Homo sapiens: one gene and its partners. The protein of the gene in region 4 purifies or fractionates together with the protein of the main gene of each other region. This does not show direct contact. Each region holds a gene or a part of one and is shown on either strand. Other genes may lie near its edges.

Region 1 (4,466 bases), on a different chromosome or scaffold from region 4:
ATGGCTCCCAGATCATAGATTCCACAAATCAATTTAAAAAGTATTACGAAAAAAGATTCTCAAATTGTTATCTAGCCCAGTTGATATTTAAAATATTAACAATAACTATCATTTACCACCATCATTGTTTCACAAAAGAAACTATTTTTTTTTTCTGAGACTGAGTCTCGCTCTGTCACCCAGTCTGGAGTGCAGTGGTGCGATCTCTGCTCATTGCAACATCCACCTCTCAGGTTCAAGCAATTCTCCTGCCTCAGCCTCCCAAGTAGCTGGGACTACACGCCCAAGCCACCATGCCCACCTAATTTTTTTTTTTCTTTTTTTGAGACATAGTCTTACTCTGTTGCCCAGACTCCTAATTTTTGTATTTTTAGTAGAGACAGGTTTCACCATGTTGAACTCCTTGTTTCAAGTAATCCACCCATCTCAGCTTCCCAAAGTGCTGGGATTACAGGCATGAGCCACCATGCCCAGCCTGGAATGAAATTTTGATTTAAAAAAAAAAGAAAGAGCCAGAAACACAATATCAGAGTAAAGGATTGTCCTTTAGATGGATAAATGTTAGATATAAAAAACTTCATTATCCTTATTTTTTTTTCATTTTTACTACACAGAGTGGTGAAACAATATTATGACCTGGCACCCATCTGTAGACCAACACTGGAAAACTAGTGCCTTATAACTGATATTCTTAACTGAGGCTTGATGGTATCAACATCCCTTACTCCTAAAGGCTGAACACTTGACCTCTTCTCTCTCTTCCTTGTTCAGAGTTTAATTTTTTAAAAAATAGCTACAGAGGCCGGGCACGGTGGCTCATGTCTGTAATCCCAGAACTTTGGGAGGCTGAGGCAGGTGGATCACCTAAGGTCAGGAGTTTGAGACCAACCTGACCAACATGGAGAAACCCCTTCTCTACTAAAAATGCAAAATTAGCCAGGTATGGTGGCGCATGCCTGTAATCCTAGCTACTCAGGAGGCTGAGGCAGGAGAATCGCTTGAACCCAGGAGGCAGAGGTTGTGGTGAGCCGAGATGGCACCATTGTATTCCAGCCTGGGCAATAAGAGCAAAACTCCTTCTCAAAAAAAAAAAAAAAAAAAAAGACAGAGCCATGTTCATGGTGACAATCCTGCCCTTTGTTCCTTTTTCTTTTTTTTAACTTGGGATTGGATGTTTGGATTATTTTAAGTTTTGTTTCTGATATGAAAAATTTCGTGAAGCAAATCTTTGTACTCATGTAAAAAATAGACCAAAGATTTCTGAGACAGATGCAAAATATGGTTTTGCATCTTATTTTATATACATTTACATAATAAATTTGAGGCTGATATATTCCTCTTAGATTCTATGCCCAATAATATAAGCTTAGGAATGACTAAGTCTCAGCACTAGAGTCCCGACTACAAAGAGCATTTTCAAATTCCTTCAAGTTTGGTTGAATTGGACATGATTTTAATTTTCTGCCAATTGTTACCCCTCTTCAATTCTTGGAAAAGTTTTCATACTTTTTGTGTAATCTGGCAATTGCACTCCTTTCCCCAGTTGTGGGATACTCTCTGTATCTTTTTTCTTGCATGTCTGTCTGTCTCTCTCTTTCTCTCTCTCCCTGTCTCCCTCTCTCTGTCTCTGTCTCTGTCTCTCTCTCTCTCTCTCTCTCTCACACACACACACACACACACACACCCACTCATAGAGCTTTAGGAAGCAACAACACTATTTGTGTACGTATGTCACTTAATCTGGCACTGCCATGACAAAGTCTGCTTAGACAACCCACCTGAGGGTCGAAGACTTCACAGTTTATGACAAGGTTTTTCGGGCTTTCCAAGTCCAAGGCTTCTACATCATAGAACAAATCTGCTCTGCAGAATCCAAAGACCTACAAAGGAATGAGGAGCTGTTAGTGTGTGTGTCCAGGTGGTGTGAAGATGACCAGCCAGAGTTAGCTTCCAGACATTCAGAAAAGGAAGAAGTGCTTTAGAAAAATCAGGGTAATATGATCAGATATTCCCACCAGTCGTTCAGCAATCTTTCCTTGTTAACACTTTGGGGAAAGTGCAGGTGGTGAAGGGTATCACTAAAGTTGCTGTGGTTTTTTTCATGAGCAGGCACCAGCACTGGGCTTCCCCATGGGTGATGGAAATGATGAGGAAAACCACATCATTGCTGCCTTGCCTTTAGGCCAACCCTTCTGCACTGGAGACCTCAGTTGCCTGTGCCTAGGACAATGAGGAATGGTGTCAAAGAGGGATTTTTACAACTTCAGCTGGTCCCTTGGAGGAAAGTGTTGGACAGGAGGGCATCTGTATAGCATAAAGATGGGTTTTCATGGACATTGTCAAGGCAAGTGTCTGCTGACTCCACCCAAGTGCCAGGGCTACAACTGGCTGCCACTCCTGTGCTCCAGATGCTCCTAAACCCACCTGTGAAAGATCGACTAGGACAAGAGGACGGCTGTCTGCTAGAAGAAATTGCTAAGCATTGAGGTTCTGAGTACAGTTTGGGAATCAGAGAGACCTATGTTAATCCTGGCTTCTCCATTTCCTAGTTGTCTGAGTTTGGGAAAGTTACAAAAGATTTCTGAAAGTCAGCCATTGTAAAATGGGGATAATACTATGTACTCACAGGTTGTGGGAGGGATTAATTAAACAAGAGGATGCTGTAAAACACTTACCCCTGAGCCTCCTCTTCAGCTCTGGTGCTTCAACTCTGGGTTTACATTATCCACACCAAGATCATGAAGGGTTTGTTGGCCATAGGAGTAGGGGAGGGAGGTGTCTTTTCTGGTGGGCGCTAAGAAGGTTTCTAGACCTGGTTCAGTGTGGACATTAGAAGAGCTAACAAAGGTACTAATGGATGGTTTCTCCCTTTTGACCAGGGAGAATGTGTTGTTAAACCTCAGAAAAATCCTGGACTTGGCATCATAATTAAAATTCCATTTCCTAACACTCTCTAGCTAAGTGCCTTTAGGTAAGTGGTTTTAATTTCAGGTCCCCTTGTCACAGGAAATGTAGGCAGATACTTGCTTTTCCTTGTCAGCAGGATTTTCATGAGGCTCTCCTGGCAATAACAGATGTGGAGGTGTTTCTTTAACTGTAGGTCACCATGCAAATGCCAGGTGGTATTAATAATGTCTTCTGGCAGGTACATGGGAATCTATTTGTAAATGATTAGAGGAAAAATCCCACTGGACTTTGTATGAGAATAACTAAGTTTTAATCTCAGCTTGGTTGTGAACATCGGCAAGACCTTTCCTTTGCTGATTTTCAGTTACCTCCTCATTTGTCAAGTGGGATTCCTGTGAGTGTGATGATGTGGAATTAATAAAACCACTTGGCGTAGGGTCTTAGTACGAACTGCTATAGTTCTAACTAAGCCTTTAATCCTAATCAGTTAGAAACTTAGTTTTAAGTTTAGGTATATATCATGTATATTATAAAATCATGTTCTTATGGTTCGCTTATGTTCTCTGTGCCTCAGTTCCCCTATCTGCTAATTTGGGATTAAAAATGGTATCTATCTCATATGGTAGTGTGAGGGTTAATAAGTTATCATAGGCTGGGCATGGTGGCTTGCGCCTGTAACCCCAGCACTTTGATTTGTAATCCCAGCCGAAGTGGGTGGACACCTGAGATAAGGAGTTTGAGACCAACCTGATCAACATGGTGAAACCCCATCTCTACTAAAAATACAAAAATTAGCTGGGCGTGGTGGTGCATGCCTGTAATCCCAGTTACTCCGGAGGCTGAGGCAGGAGAATCGCCTGAACCCGGGAGGCGGAGGTTGCAGTGAGCCGACACTGTGCCATTGCACTCCAACCTGGGCAACAAGAGCGAAACTCCATCTCAAAAACAAAACAAAACAATAAGTTATCTGATGTGTAAATCACTTAGAAGAGTGCCTGGCAGGTACTAAGTGCTTCCCAGATGATACTTTGTATTTCACAGACATTTCTTCCTCCTTCTCCTCCTCCTCATTTTCTCCTTCTCATTCCTCTTCTCCTTCTTCTCCTTCCTCTCCTTCTCCTTCTCCTTCTCCTTCTTCTCTTTCTTTTTTCTCTGTGACTCTAGTCAACGATCACAGACATTTCTTATACTCACATTGGGGTGTCTGGGGAAATGGTGTCTGGGGCAGTTCCGCACAGAGAAGTCCACGAAGTAACCAGTTCCTTCCCCTCCTCTCTAGAACAGATGGGATCAAAATAGTTTCAAGAACAGACAAAGAAAAAGGAAAAAAAAGCAGTAGATAACTACCATTCAATATTTTTTAAGGCAGTATGAGAATTCAAAATCACCAGTATGTGTCATTTTTTAAAATGGTTTCTGCCTTTTAAAAATGTATCACCTAAGTGATAAGGTGAATACCAGTTCACTGAAAAGGTTCAAATAATAAATATATGATAAAGTAGAGTGTGAAAAATCACCTCTCCTGCACTCCAACTTCTTCCCAGAGTTTTCATTCTCAT
Region 2 (4,742 bases), on a different chromosome or scaffold from region 4:
TCTACTAAAAATATAAAAAATTAGCCGGGCGTTGTGGTGGACACCTGTAATCCCACCTACTCGAGAGATTGAGGCAAGAGAATTGCTTGAACCTGGAAGGTGGAGTTTGCAGTGAGCTGATATCATGCCATTTTACTCCAGCCTGGGCAACGAGAGCAAAACTCCATCAAAAAAAAAAAAGAAAGAAAGAAAAAGAAAGAAAGAGAAAAAGAGAGAAAGAAGGAATCACAAATTTATTATTATGATCATATTTTCCTGTCTCCAGGACCCCTTGTATTCTTGTTTTTCTTGAAGGATCTGACTGTTTCACAGCACCTTAAATCTTACTTTGCTATTGATAGAGAATCTGCGAATTATATTGTCTGAGGCATCATAATGACTTGTCCTGGGTTCCCTGTATCTGCATGGCTCCAGGTTTCTGTCTTATGCTTTATGCATTCAGTACATTCAATAAATTGTAATCTGGCACCTCACATGAGGTCTCTGTTAATGATATCAGGCTCATCAACAGCCTCTTCCTCCCTCCCCACTCCCCCCAATATTCTGTCTTTTCTCCTGTGCTGATATTATTGCACCAACTTAGAATGCCCATTTTCTTCCTCTTTGCTGGGCCATTCTTTACAGTCCAGAGTTCTGCCTATCTCCCAGATTCTGGGCTCAAATTGGCTTTTCCATTTTATGAACTATTACAACACTATTCAAATTATATAATCATGTTAATTACCTTTTGTTATTCCATGCAGGTATCTATTGTCTCCCTAACTGAACAGTTGCTTACACTTCTTTATCTACAATATTATCAGTGTCTCCCAAAGTTGGCAGACCATCAGAATTCCCAGGGGAACTTTTACAAAATGTAGATTCTGACTCAGGAAACAGGGTTGAGACCAAAGTCCTAGAACACCTAGCCTACTGATTGACATTTAAATAAGCAGTCAGAGATGCTACTGGCAGTGTATCAGAGAAACGTTTTGAAAGCACTGTGTCCCTAAATCCCAAGGTTACTACCAGAATTGTTGCAACATTATTGTAACCTTTGAGTAGGCTGCTTTTTTATTTGCATGTTTGCTTATGTATATACAGTGTACATGACATATTTATTTAATTACATTTTACAGAGACAAGATGACTACTATAATTTTTGGCTCTCTATTTTTTTTAACATCAGTTCCAGATAAATACTATATAACTTTCAATGACCTATTTATTAAACATGGGATTTAAAGAACATGTAAAACACATTTGTTCTTCCCTGTAAAATATTAAGGTGATGAAGAATTTTTCCATTTCTCTGATTTTCTCTTGCAGTGTAGGGTGTGCGATACATATTTGCTGACTGAATGAATGGTTGAGGTGTAAATAGGACAACCATAATTGTGTGTTATTACACTGATGGTAAACAATGTGATGTATACAGACCTTACTGAACAAACCATAAAATAGAGGAACACGGCATTTGGGGAAAATTCTTTTAATTACGCATTTGAATATTGGTCTTTGGGTCATTTGAGGGACAGTGACTGGTGGCAGGAAGGTCCACGGTGACATGTGGCCTTCTAGCTTGATTCTTGGCCTTCTGCAGCCTCTGGTGCCATCCAGAGGACTCTCTGGAAGCCTCAGAGCAGAGGTCCAAGAGGCCTCATCAACAGCAACCACTGGAGACTCCAGAAGATGCTACAGGAATTTCTTCCAATTAGAGATGCCACCTGCTTTCCAACAAAGTGGAGAAAACCTTCCTTCAATCAAAAAATAAAGAGGTATTTTTATTTCTCCACAGTCTGGTCTTCTTGTGAGTCAGATGCTCCAGTCTCTTTGGTTCACTGGTATTTCAAGTAACAGGTGAGTCAAAGCACAGAGACTACTGCAGAAACATTTGCTCCTGGCTTCTGTGGCTTGTGTTACAGGAAGAGAAGAGGTGGGACAGGAAGGGGTGGTAGGTTGAGAATTTGAGATTGTACCACAATCCCAAACTCAGGAAACAGGGTTGGTCCAGAGCGGGTCCAACAGGCTGGTCCAGAGCTAATCTAAGGTAATTCCATGTCTTTGATTCATGGGTGTTTATGGAAACCTGCAGCAAATGCATTATAGTTAAGTCCAGTGTAGCAGGAAACTTGATGTTCACAACAGGATCATATGGAGGCTGAATGAGGAGACCAGGAAAAGGACAGGTCTCTGGAAATGAGACCAAAGAAATTTAAATAATTATCATTTCCTTAAAAAAATAAAAGAAAGAAAAAAATTGCTCATCATATCTACACCCTGAGGCGCAGCATAATCTTTTCTTTCTAGATTTCGAATATTCTGCCATTCAGGCTTTTTGTAGGACACTCAACTACCCACTTTTTGGGAGAGGGATAGCATCAGATTATTTTTGTTTTTCCAGCAGGTAGCATAGGGAATTGACTCCATAACAGTTCGTAAACATTTTTCAGCAGTCCTGACTTCTGCTTTGCAGGCAAGGCCACATCATCACCACCTAGCAGTTAATAATGGAAATGTTACACATCCTGAAATAAGTTATGTCTTGTTAGGACATTTCTGTCCTGGAGGAAATGAAAATCCTTTTGTGAACTCTTTTGTAACTCCATTGTCATACCTGTGTCCTACTGCCAACACAATTTCCTTCATGCCTGAAAATTTAATACATACTTAAAATTTAATATATGATTATGTAAAGAAAAGTTAAGCTTTATAGTCTTCCATTTTTCCCTAGTGTTCTATTTCCTTCAAAAATATCTTTATAGGGATCTTACCTTAAGGACTCGGGTCAAATGCAGCGTTTGTAAAAACTCCATATGTTCCTAGGTGGCTAAAGAACAGAAACACAAGGATGGCAACAATATACTGCTTAGTTCTCGACAACACAGTCCAACACATAGTATTTCCAGAAACCACAAATTACCATCCACCCTTGGAATTCTGCTTTAGAAAGGAAAGAAAAATAAATGCCAAAGAAATATTCGATATCCCACTTACCAGCTCTGGGTAATTTGCATTGCATTTTGCACCCACACTAAGTTATTGTTCATGCTTTATGTACTGAATACCTGTTATACCCTCTAAGTTGCTGCAACCTCTTCTAGGTGACAAGAGGTAGTTACAAAATTCTTGGCATTAACACTTGATAATCTAACGATAGTTTTCAAAGGGTGCAATATGACCCCTAGGGGTGTTTTTTGATTTTTATAACCAAGAGTTCTTCCGATATTGAGTGGGTATGGGGCAAGGGTGCTGGATGTCTACGACAATAGAGTTCATATAAGGATTTCCATGTCCTCCAGGACGGAAATGTCTTTAAAAGATATCCAGCACCCCTGCCTCCTGCCCACTCAATGTCAGTAGAACTCTTGTTCATTACAAAAATAAAAAAATACCCTTGGGGGCATACTGTCCCTTTTTGAAAACTATTGCTAGATTATAAATAGCAAGGGGTACAGGACACAAAAGAATTGTCCAACATCCCACATAACTTTGGAATATCTGCTCGATATTCATACAGGTTAAAAATCTCTGAGCCTGGAACTCAAGCACTTTACATGTAAATATTAAGCATTTTTTTGCATCTTTAAAATGCAATTGCCATATGAATCAAAGGACAATTATCACAGGTTTTCAGACTCTTTACCGGAGTTGTTCACCATGTTGAAAAATTAGGCTGGTGTTGGCCACAGTTCTAATGCTCTTTGAGTCACTAATACAACATTCCCCCATCAGTCCACCTGCGTGGGCGTTGCTTTCCTAGTGATTCTGTGGAAGGTGCACGCTTCTGATGACCTCATTGCATCTACTGGCACAGCGCCTAAGTTTTTGCATCTTGTTTTTATTATAAATTACTTTTCATTTTATTCCTACTTTATATTTTAATTAGAATATTTGTTATCTGTGTATTTTACTTCAGAGTAGAAAAGAAGACATTGCAAAAGACATTGTAAAAAGGAGGCAGGCATTGCATGTAATCATTCTGACATATTACAGTGAATTATAAAGTTAAGGTAGCAAAATTTACTCAATCATAAAACATTTCTACCTTACCTGTGAGGATTCAAGGGGCATTTCCCATCATCTAAAATCAGCAAGAAGACAAGAATGAATGATTAAAAAAAAAAAACAAGATGAAAGAGAGGGTCATTAAGGATAGAAATTACTGGGGAAAACCAGTAGACTGATTTTCAGGAGGGCTCATTATAAGGGGAATATTGGGAACAGTTTCTCCCTGAAAGGTAGAAAGTGTTTTAGGCTAAATTAAACATTCGACAATATTTAACTCCAGAGTCCTGTCACTTTCTTCCTCCTTCCTTTCAGTAAATACATAAATCAATTTCTTTTGAGGGCATCTTGTGTCACTTGCCCTCAGCCCTTAGCTGAGCAAGCTAATCACATACATGAATCCAAACCAACAGAACAGTGGATGTTTTTCCTCCCTGGTAGCATATTTTTATCCAAATAACAGACTCTCATAGTTGAATTTTCAGCTATGGCTGCAGCATTTTCCTCTTATTTGGCCATAGAAAACTTCAAAGCCTAAAATCAAATTGGGAGAAGCTGAGGAAAAAAGCTCCCATCCCCAACAAATGAATGTATTTATTATTAAAAATATTGGGGCATGAGTGGCCATTTGTCCTTCTCCACTGTTAGAGGGTCCTCTGGAAATGTCTCAAAGTCAAAGAAAGGACTTGGGGGAAACATCAAGATTAGAGTGATTCCTACATGATCATAGAGATTAAGGTCTAGGAGCTCTTGCC
Region 3 (4,466 bases), on a different chromosome or scaffold from region 4:
CTGGTCATGAAATCAATGCAAGGTTTTGAGCATGAGGTGCTGATATGTGAGTGCTAAGAGCTCTCCTAAATATGACTTTGTGATTCAAGTATCCAAAACACAATAGAAAAAGGTCACTTTGGACCACTGCATATCCATTAGGGTGGCTATTATTAAACACACACAACGCATACACACAGAGAGAAAATAACAAGTGTTGGTGAAGATGTGGAGAAACTGGAACCCTTATGCACTCTTAATGAGAATGTAAAATGGTGTGGCTACTATGGAAAATAGTATAGCAGTTCCTCAAATAAATTAGACACAGAATTATCATATGATCAGACTGGGCGTGGTGGCTCATGCCTTCAATCCCATAACTTTGGGAGGCCCAGGTGGGTGGATCACTTGAGGTCAGGAGTTCAAGACCAGCCTGGTCAACATGGTGAAACCCTGTCTTTACTAATAATACAAAAATCAGTTGGGCAAGGTGGTGCACACCTGTAATTCCAGCTCCTTGGGAGGCTGAGGCAGGAGAATCACTTGAACCCGGGAGGTGGAGGTTGCAGTGAGCCAAGATCACACCACTGCACTCCACCCTGGGCAACAGAGTGAGACTCCATCTCAAAAAAGAATTATGGTATGATCAGACCCAGCAATTCCACTTCTGGATATACACCCCAAAAATTTAAAGCAAGGACTTGAAGAGATGTTTGTACACCCGTGTTCATAACAGCATTACTCACGCTAGCCAAAAGCAACCCCAAGGGTCCATCCATGGATGAATGGGTAGAAAAAATGTGGTATATACATGGGATGGAATATTATTCAGCCCATAAAAGGGAATGAAATTCTGATGTATGCTGTAAAATGGATGAACTTTGAGGAGATGAGGCTAAGGAAAACAAGCTAGACACAAGAGAACAGACATTATATCATCCGCCTACATGAAGCACCTAGAGTAGTCAAACTCACAGAGACAGAAGGGAGAAAAGAGGTTACCAGGGCCTAAGGGAAGAGGGGATTGAGGAGTTAGGATTTAATGGGTCCAGAGTTTCAGTTTGGGACGATGAAATAGTGAGACAGAAAGTGGTGCTGGTTGCAAAACAGTGGGAATGTCCTTAACACCACTGAACTGTACACTTAGAAATGATTAAAAAGGTACATTTTAATGCTTGCATATTTTTACCACAATTTAAAAGAAAAAAGTCACTTTGGTCTCCTCTGAGGAAAAAAATAAGGACTCCTTTTTTCAATTCTGACTTAGAGCTGCGGGAGAGGCAAAGATGGACAAGACATGAAATTTGGTATCAAGGAATCGTGTCTATAAATAATGGCAATACAGGCGAAACGTGGTCAGTGTTCCCATCAAACTGTAAACAAGCCCAAGGGTGCATAGCACTGAGAGAGAATAATTCTAACTGGAAGGTCTGGGATAGGCTTTATGGAAGAAACGGTATCTCAGTTGGGCTTTGAGGGACGAAAAGAAGTTCTTCACGTAGAGACACAAGGGAAAGGCACTGCAAGGGGTGTGAACAGCATAAGCCGGGCAAGAGGCAGGGGAATGCAGGTGTACTTGGGGAATAGCAAGCAGCTATGTGGACACGCAGGTATGAGGTTAAAAAGAAAAGTAGAGTTTGGCCCTGGAGAACATTGAGTCCCAGCCCAACGAATGTGAACTTTTATTCTACCGACAGCAAAGAATCAACAAAGGTTTCTGTACAAGGGGGTGGTGTCTCCCTTTTAAAGCAACTGATAGTCAATGTCAATTAGAAACAAGGCTAACAATTCATACAAAAATGAGCAAATGACATAGCTAATCAACAAGTAAATGCTCATTCATAGTAAGATAAATGCAAACTGAAACTGCACTGAGATACCATTTTTTCCCTACTAGATTTGCAAAGATCAAAAAGTCAGATAACACATCGTACTGACCAGAGTGTAGGAAGCATGCCCTCTTATGTATTGTTGGTGGCAGTAATCTCTAATCTTTATGAGGCCAATCAAGTAATATCTACTAAAATTATAAATGCACTCACCCTCTGGACCAATAATTTCACTACTAGGAGTTTAACCTACTAATACACTGAAAGTTGTGCAAAATGATGTTTGTGTAGATTTTCACACCAGTACAGTTTGCAATTGCAGGAGATAGGGAAGCCTAAACTCATCAAGAGGGAGCTGGTTAAATAAAAATAGTACATCCACTCATGGAGTACCATACAGCTATTAAAAGGAGGAAGCTCTTCACGTACAGAAAATGGAATGATCGCAAAGGGTTTTCTGTCTGGTTTTTTTGTTTGTTTTTGAATTTTCAGGGTTTTCTTTTTTTTGTTTGTTTGTTTTTTTTTTTGAGTTGGAGTCTCACTCTGTCATCCAGGCTGGAGTGCAGTGACGCAATCTCGGCTCACTGCAACCTCTGCCGCCCAGGTTCAAGTGATTCTCCTGCCTCAGCCTCCCGAGTAGCTGGGATTACAGGCACCTGCCACCACACCCGGCTGATTTTTGTATTTTTAGTAGAGATGGGGTTTCACGATGTTGGCCAGGCTGGTCTCGAACTCCTGACCTCAAGTAATCCACCCACTTCAGCCTCCCAAAGTGCTGGGATTACAGGCGTGAGCCACTGTGCCCAGCCCAGGTTTTGAAATTTCAGGTTTGTTGGAATATAATTCACACCACACAATTCACACACTGAAAGTGTAAATTGCAACGTTTTCTAGTAGATTTACAGAGTTAGTCAACAATCAATCATTACAACAATCAATTTTCAAACATTTCATTGCCCCAAAATGAAACCCAGTACCCACTGGCAGTCACTTCCCATTTTTTTGCTTGCTTTTAAAAAACAGACTCAGAAATACCATTTGGATTAAATACACACTCACACCACACACACACATATATATGTACATGTGTATAGTCACTTGAATACACATATCACTGGTTGCTTACACGGATAAGAATGAGGTGACCAGGAGACAGAATAAGAGAGAAAGATGCACTGTATATCCTTCCCTAACTTTTGAATTGTGTACTACACAATTTTTTTTTAAGTAGGTGAGGAGAAAGCAACTGTCCTAAAAGGTCAAAGTGGGCCGGGCATGGTGGATCACGCCTGTAATCCCAGCACTTTGGGAGGCTGAGGTGGGCGGTTCACGAAGTCAAGAGATCGAGACCATCCTGGCCAGCATGGTGAAACCCCGTCTCTTCTAAAAATACAAATATTAACCGGGCGTGGTGGCACATGTCTGTAGTCCCAGCTACTGGGGAGACTGAGGCAGGAGAATTGCTTGAACCCGGGAGGCAGAGGTTGCAGTGAGCCGATATCGTGCCACTGCATTCCAGCCTGGCGACAGAGTGAGACTCTGTCTCAAAAAAAAAAAAAAAAAAAAGGTCACAGTGGAAACTATGTCTTCTGCAAATGGCAGAGGGAATAGGAGAAGAGCTGGTGATTCCTTTTGACCAGTCATGGGCAACCTGTGGGAAGAGATATATAAAGAAGGGGGTACAATGCAAACTGTCCATGCCACCCCCCCCAGGAGAGGTTTAATTGTTTTATGTTCTCGTTTATGCTGCCAGATTACAGGGAGGAAACACATATAAAAATCATCTCATAATTAGAAGCAGAGAATGTTACAGTGGATGAGTCTGGTGACAAGCCAGTCTACTCTCTTATTCTGCAGACGAGGAAATGACAATCAAGAGGTGACATTCTCCAACACCACCCAGCTGGTGGGTGAGCAAAGGCAAGCCCAGAAACCTGGCTCCTTTTCTAGCCACCCACCCACTCCCACCTTCCCCACGCCATAGCAAATGATATCAATGGTGACTAATGGTCACCATTCCATGGCCTCCTGGAAACTCTAGACTAAATTCTGCTTCCACATGAATAGGGATATACCCAGCATTTGTCCATAAGTGCTGGTTTATTAATTCAGCCAGATATGCCAAGATGTCGCCCCCATTCTCAAGATGCAAATCACAGTGTTAAGTCCACAACAGAGTTTCACCCAAGGCCAGGGATCGCTGGTGCTGGCGGAAGCCGAACCAGCCAATGGGTGGCCAACACGCCTTATTCCAAAGCAATGCCCCGAATGTTTCCCTCACTAATCCCACAAATAAGTCAAATGTCAAATAAGACATTTGCTTATTTTGTGAGACAAAGGGCAGCCCAGCACCCAGGACATGCAGAGGTGTATTAAATATCACACTTTGTTCTTTCCCAAAGAACAACTTAAAACCTCTTCCTCATTCCTTTCATGTATACCTTAAAAACTCACCCAGGCTCAGCTCTCCCACTTTGATAATTTTTTGAGTAGGGATAAGGGGTGTCAGATTTTTAGTGCTGATGCTAGGATCTCCAGTGAAAACCTCTTTTAAACAGAATGCCAGGGTAATGACCATTTGATTTTACTAGAAAAGTGCAGTTCATAATAACCGTGTTCATTATTTTACATCTTACTGCTAAAAATGCAACAGTCCAC
Region 4 (6,138 bases):
ACAAAGCAGACATCATTTAAATGTGCAGAGTGCAGGAATGGCTTTGGCCAGAGAGCTATTATAGATGGCTGAAGGAGGTAGACCCACAAGCTGGGAAAACCTCTCCACTGGGGCTTTTTCACCCTGGAACTTTGGCCCACAAAGCATCGTACTCTTGCAGCTGTACCCAGAATATTCCCTTTGCTGTCTGCTTCAGGTTAGCCCCTGGTGTGTGTCAATAATTTGTAAGGGTTAATAAAGAACTGTTGGGTCAAACAGACCTGGTCCACATCCTGGCTCTGTCACTTACTGGCTTTGTGATATTAGGTAGATCAATTAATTTCTCTGAGCCTCATTTTAACTTGTTTAAGATGGGATTAATATAGCACCTACTTCATAGGTGATGAGAATTAGTGAGAGGATGAATGTAAATGCATGGTGAGCACTCAGTGAATTAGGTTGCTTTCCACCACCTTCTTTTCCTTTGGCTGACCCATTTCCCAGAATCCACAAGCTCATAGTCCCTTTGAGCCCACCAGCTTGAGCACTGGGGATGGAGAAACGTTGTTTTGTGTGCAGCTGTTCAAACGATGGCTCTGATGTTATATAACTTTCCCATGGTTTAGGAGGTTCCCAAGTGGCTTCAGAGAATAAAGCACAAAGCTGGGGAAGACTCTTTCTGGGTCTTGTCCAAGGACCCCCGAGGAGACACACAAATATTCTCCTGTTTCTGTCCTTGGTCAGTCCCTTAGAGTAGCAGTTCTGGTGCTAGCAGCAAACTTTCCTGAATGCTCCAAACACAGCCAGAGGATAGGCCTGCAGTGAGATGACGATAGAACATGATAGCTATATTAGGTCATCAGAGACAACCTGTTTGTTTTGCAGATGAGGCAGAGTTATCAGATTTAGCAAAAATACAAAATGCCAATTATATTTGAATTTCAGATACACAACAATGACAACAAAATTTATTTTACCATAAGTATATTCCAATGTAAGCATTTTTACCATAAGTATATCCCAATGTAAGTTTTTTTTTTTTTTTTTAGAGACAGCAAGTGTCTTACTCTGTTGCCCAGGCTGGAGTGCAGTGGCATGATCAATGCTAACTGCAGCCTTGAACTCCTGGGCTCAAGGGATCCTCCTGCCTCAGTCTCCTAAAAGGCTGGGATTACAGGTATGAACCCCCAGGCCTGCCTACTTCGTGTGTTTTATCTGGCAATGCTGAGAGGACAGCTAGATGTCGAGGACAGCCAGATTTCGAGGACAGCCAGACGTCAAGGGGGAAAGCAACTTGCTGGCTCACACAGCCAGCCAGGTCTATTGTGGAGCCCTAGTCGCAAACACATACACCCCAGCTTTCAAGTTTTTAAATATTTATTTAGTTAGTTATTTGTTTTTTGAGACAGTCTTGCTCTGTCACCCAGGCTGGAGTGCAGTGGTGCAATTTCAGCTCACTGCAACCTCTGCCTCCCAGATTCAAGTGATTGTGCCTCAGCCTCCCTAGTAGCTGGGACTACATGTGCGCGCCTGCACTGCCCAGCTAATTTTTGTACTTTTAGCGGAAACGGGGTTTCCCCATATTGGCCAGAGTGGTCTCAAACTCCTGACCTCAAGTGATCCACCCACCTCGGCCTCCCAAAGTGCTGGGATTACAGGCGTGAGCCACCGTGCCCGGCTAGCTTTTTTTTTTTTTTTTTTTTTAATTAGGTTGAATGCTTGTTGAGCTGGGTGCCTCACATCCGTTGTCTGTTATACAAAGAACTACTGATTATGGGTCTCTACGAGCAAAAATGGCAGAACACCTACAGGGCACAGGGGAGATGGGAGCAGGGATTAGGCTTCAGAATACTTCTCCAAATGAGGGTGATCAGGGCCCGACATTTCACTGCTCTAAGGCTCAGTATCTTAACTATCAAATGGGTACAATGGGGCACAAAGGGTTACTTTGAGGAATAACGGAGGTGAGCAATTTCCAAAAAGTTCATTCCTTTAAAAACTGCGGAGCACATTTTGTGTACATGCTGTTTTTATTGTTACTCATGAAGACGCGGGGGAAGCTTTGGTTGTGTAAAGCTGAGAACTGCACCCAAGCTTCCCCGTTCACCCCACCTACCAGGGGATTTGGGCTAAATTCCTGGCCTGGCCCACAAAGAAGACCAAGCGGTCAGTCCCATTCCGTCCCATCCTGATTTACAGGAACTCACACCAGCGATCAATCTTCCTTAATTTGTAACTGGGCAGTGTCCCGGGCCAGCCAATAGCTAAGACTGCCCCCCCCGCACCCCACCCTCCCTGACCCTGGGGGACTCTCTACTCAGTCTGCACTGGAGCTGCCTGGTGACCAGAAGTTTGGAGTAGGTTTGGTGCTGGGCAGGGGTGGGGAGTAGGGTGGAAAGCATGGAGTGAAGAGGTCTAGGGAGGGGGTCTCCTCACCCCCGCCTTCCTGCCCGCCTTGATCTCGGGGGTCTCTATAGGCTTGCTTCCACCTGGGACTTCTGCCTCCTCCTACCCCAGCCCCTCCCGCCTCAGGCCTGTTGTGCTCAGCCCCCCAGGACCTCCCCTCCCCCACGCCTCTGGCCTCATTGTTTGGTTAAAGCAGGACCCCCTCCCCCTCCCACCACCTCCCCTCCGACTGAACAGATGGACAGAGACCCGGGCCCACGGGGAGAGGAAGGGCCAGCCGGTGCCGGGAAAGGGAAGCGGTTTGGGGAAAACAAAACAGAGGGAGGAGCCAGGGAGAAGGTGGCCCCAGGAGGGAGGAGGAGGGAATTCGCTAAGAGGGACTGGGGCCTGAGACGGAATGGGGGCGGGCCCCGGGCGGGGTGGGGGCCCCTGGGCTCCCAGGGTGGGAGCTGGCTCCGAGGCTGGCTGGCTCCGCAGGTCCGCTGACGTCGCCGCCCAGATGGCCTCCAGGCTGACCCTGCTGACCCTCCTGCTGCTGCTGCTGGCTGGGGTATGTGGTCCCTTGTGGGATGGGGGACGGGGGTGGAGACGGGAGGCGGGATGGTGCGGGGTGCGGGCGGTGGCTGAGGATTAACCCTTCAGGCTCCGGGGAATGAGGAGAGCTCCTCTTGGGATCATTGAGTGTGATCCTTGCACACGCACTCGTAGATGGTGGAAAGAGCTCAGGACTCAGACAGATGCAAGTTCTAATCTTGGCGGGCCATGTAGGAGCTGCGCAGCGTGGTCCTGAGGACGTCACTTTTCTCAGCCTACTCCTCCTGATTTATAAAATGTTGAATAAACAGATCCCACCCTGTCCACCAAGCAGGCTTGGCAGGAGGATCACATAGGGCAAGGAGATGGGAAGCATTTTGTGATATCAAAGCAAGAGTTTGTTGTAGAAAAGAGCTGTGGGGAGGAGAGGTTTGGCTGCTGTGACACAGACGGTGGTCCCAGGCTAGGGCCTGTGAAGACAGGGAAGAATGGTAGCAAACATACGTGGGTCTGGGTGGGGGTCAATAGCAGTGAGAGGTCCCAGTGGTCTGGGAGGTCATGGACTAGAAATAAGGCTAAGAAGTGCAGGATCCCAGGAGAAAGGTAGGTAGGGGTGTGTGTATGTGCGTGTGTGTGTGTGTGCACGCGCAAGTTGGTATCACATACTCAGCAGATGATGTAGTTATGAGCAGGGAGTTTGGAATCAGAGACCTTGTTTTGACCCCTAGCTGTTTCTCCCATTTCTGTGAGACCCTGGACTAGTTAATATGTGTCGGTATGAGTTTCTCTACCTGTGAAATGGAGCTAATGCGTGGTTTCTCAGTGGAGGATCTGTTGACATTGGGGCTGGATAATTCATTGCTGAGGGGCTACCCTGCGCATTTTAGGATGTTTTGCAGTATATCTCTAGCCTCTACGCACTAGATTCCGGTAGCATCTTCCCTGCTGTCTCCCTGTGACAACCAAAAATGTCTCTGGACATTGCCAAATATCCCCTGGGAGTCAAAATTGTTTCAGAGCCGCTGGCCTATACTACTTCTCTCTCCCTCCCTTCCTGCCTCCCTTCTTTCCTCCTTCCCTTTCTTCGTTCCCTTCCTAATGTGTACTGTTTTTCCACACCCACTAATGGGTTGCAACCCACAGTTTAAAAATTTACTGTTCTAAATCAAGGAGCACAAGTTCAAATGTCTGTACTAGCCAAGCAAGTGAGTCAAACAGGTAGATATTTACAGGAAATTGCAAGAACATAGATAAATGACAACACTCAGCTTCACTGTTTGGAAAACAACTTCCTACAGGGCAGTAATTGGTCAGAGATTACAGAGTCCCTGACTATCCCTCATCTTCTGCAGAGCACATTCCTGTGCACCCCCACCCTCACCCTGTATTGCCCCTTCTCTGAGGAATTAGTGGTGGTGGTTCTAAGACAGATTGCTCATCTGCCGCACTGTCAGAAATTACTCTCTTGTACAGGACATTTTCCACATCCACACCTTCTCTTCCTGCTTTGAGTATTTTAGAGGACTGTGCCTCGTAGTAAGAAAAAAATGAAACTCAGTTTCTTGAACCACAGGATAGAGCCTCCTCAAATCCAAATGCTACCAGCTCCAGCTCCCAGGATCCAGAGAGTTTGCAAGACAGAGGCGAAGGGAAGGTCGCAACAACAGTTATCTCCAAGATGCTATTCGTTGAACCCATCCTGGAGGTTTCCAGCTTGCCGACAACCAACTCAACAACCAATTCAGCCACCAAAATAACAGCTAATACCACTGATGAACCCACCACACAACCCACCACAGAGCCCACCACCCAACCCACCATCCAACCCACCCAACCAACTACCCAGCTCCCAACAGATTCTCCTACCCAGCCCACTACTGGGTCCTTCTGCCCAGGACCTGTTACTCTCTGCTCTGACTTGGAGAGTCATTCAACAGAGGCCGTGTTGGGGGATGCTTTGGTAGATTTCTCCCTGAAGCTCTACCACGCCTTCTCAGCAATGAAGAAGGTGGAGACCAACATGGCCTTTTCCCCATTCAGCATCGCCAGCCTCCTTACCCAGGTCCTGCTCGGTAAGACCCTGCTTGAATTCTCTCCAGGTCATTTGTTGGACACTCCCATAAGAGTCACCAATCCAGACACTTACAAAGCCATGCCTCTGGGAAGAAGCTGTAAAAATGGGCTATTATATATTGGGGGTGGGGTAGAGGGATGTATCTTTTCATTCTTGAACATTCCATCATTTCACAGTGATGTAATAGGCACGATTGCTTGTAAAACTCTGTGACTATACAAGAACATATAAAATAAGGTCGCAGCCACTAACCATGTTTCATGGCAAGGAGAGGTGATAAGAAAGATGAAATTAGGCGCAGTGGCTCACGCCTGTAATCCCAGCACTTTGGGAGGCCAAGGCGGGTGGATCACCTGAGGTCAGGAGTTCAAGACCAGCCTGGCCAACATGGTGAAACCCTGTCTCTACTAAAAATACAAAAATTATCAGGGAGTGGTGGTGCATGCCTGTAATCCCAGCTACTTGGGCAGCTGAGGCAGGAGAATCGCTTGAACCCAGGAGGTGGAGGTTGCAGTGAGCCGAGACCGCACCATTGCACTACAGTCTGGGTGACAGAGCGAGACTCTGTCTCAAAAAAAAAAAAAAATTATCAGAGATAGACCTAGAGTAGATGTGGTTAGTACTGCCTTCTAGCTCTGTGACCTTGGGCAGATCACTTTAACCTCTCTGAGCCTTGAGTCCTCTTGTGTAAAATAGTGATGATGCTATCTACCTCAAAAGATTAAGAAGCAGAAAGCCAGGCCGGATGCGGTGGTTCACACCTGTAATCCCAGCATTTTAGGAGGCCGAGGCGGGCAGATCACGAGGTCAGGAGTTCGAGACCAGCCTGACTAACATGGTGAAACCCCGTCTCTACTAAAAATAAAAAGAAATTAGCTAGGCATGGTGGTGCACACCTGTAACCCCAGCTACTCAGGAGGCTGAGGCAGGAGAATCACTTGAACACGGGAGGCAGAGGTTGCAGTGAGCCGAAATCATGCCACTGCACTCCAGCCTGGGAAGACTGAGCAAGACTCTGTCTCAAAAAAAAAAAAGAAGCAGCCTAGTGTCTGACTTAGTGGGAGGTCAAAAAAATGTAAATCCTCTGCCATCTTGAGGGATTACTGTCAAGTCCCATTTGGTAATTACCCTAGGAATGGCACAAA

Evidence for each region.
Region 1: the proteins of SERPING1 (region 4) and HRG purify together in Homo sapiens (affinity purification with mass spectrometry, with the first as the bait; one large-scale study listed by BioGRID). This does not show direct contact.
Region 2: the proteins of SERPING1 (region 4) and SELP purify together in Homo sapiens (affinity purification with western blotting, with the first as the bait; one study listed by BioGRID). This does not show direct contact.
Region 3: the proteins of SERPING1 (region 4) and SEL1L3 purify together in Homo sapiens (affinity purification with mass spectrometry; one large-scale study listed by BioGRID and IntAct). This does not show direct contact.

Annotation. Positions count from the first base shown.
Region 1 is NC_000003.12:186,672,503-186,676,968, reverse strand, and holds part of HRG (histidine-rich glycoprotein precursor), read right to left. Parts: intron 4,183-4,466; coding exon 4,102-4,182; intron 1,881-4,101; coding exon 1,779-1,880; intron 1-1,778. UniProt on the Homo sapiens protein: Plasma glycoprotein that binds a number of ligands such as heme, heparin, heparan sulfate, thrombospondin, plasminogen, and divalent metal ions. Binds heparin and heparin/glycosaminoglycans in a zinc-dependent manner.
Region 2 is NC_000001.11:169,587,394-169,592,135, forward strand, and holds the end of SELP (P-selectin precursor), read right to left. Parts: intron 4,064-4,742; coding exon 4,033-4,063; intron 2,810-4,032; coding exon 2,755-2,809; 3' UTR 2,754-2,754; intron 2,477-2,753; exon of another isoform or gene 2,069-2,476; 3' UTR 1,456-2,068; downstream 1-1,455. UniProt on the Homo sapiens protein: Ca(2+)-dependent receptor for myeloid cells that binds to carbohydrates on neutrophils and monocytes. Mediates the interaction of activated endothelial cells or platelets with leukocytes. The ligand recognized is sialyl-Lewis X.
Region 3 is NC_000004.12:25,848,534-25,852,999, forward strand, and holds part of SEL1L3 (protein sel-1 homolog 3), read right to left. Parts: intron 1-4,466.
Region 4 is NC_000011.10:57,595,387-57,601,524, forward strand, and holds the start of SERPING1 (plasma protease C1 inhibitor precursor), read left to right. Parts: upstream 1-2,298; 5' UTR 2,299-2,336; intron 2,337-2,824; exon of another isoform or gene 2,825-2,862; 5' UTR 2,863-2,884; coding exon 2,885-2,935; intron 2,936-4,492; coding exon 4,493-4,991; intron 4,992-6,138. UniProt on the Homo sapiens protein: Serine protease inhibitor, which acrs as a regulator of the classical complement pathway. Forms a proteolytically inactive stoichiometric complex with the C1r or C1s proteases. May also regulate blood coagulation, fibrinolysis and the generation of kinins.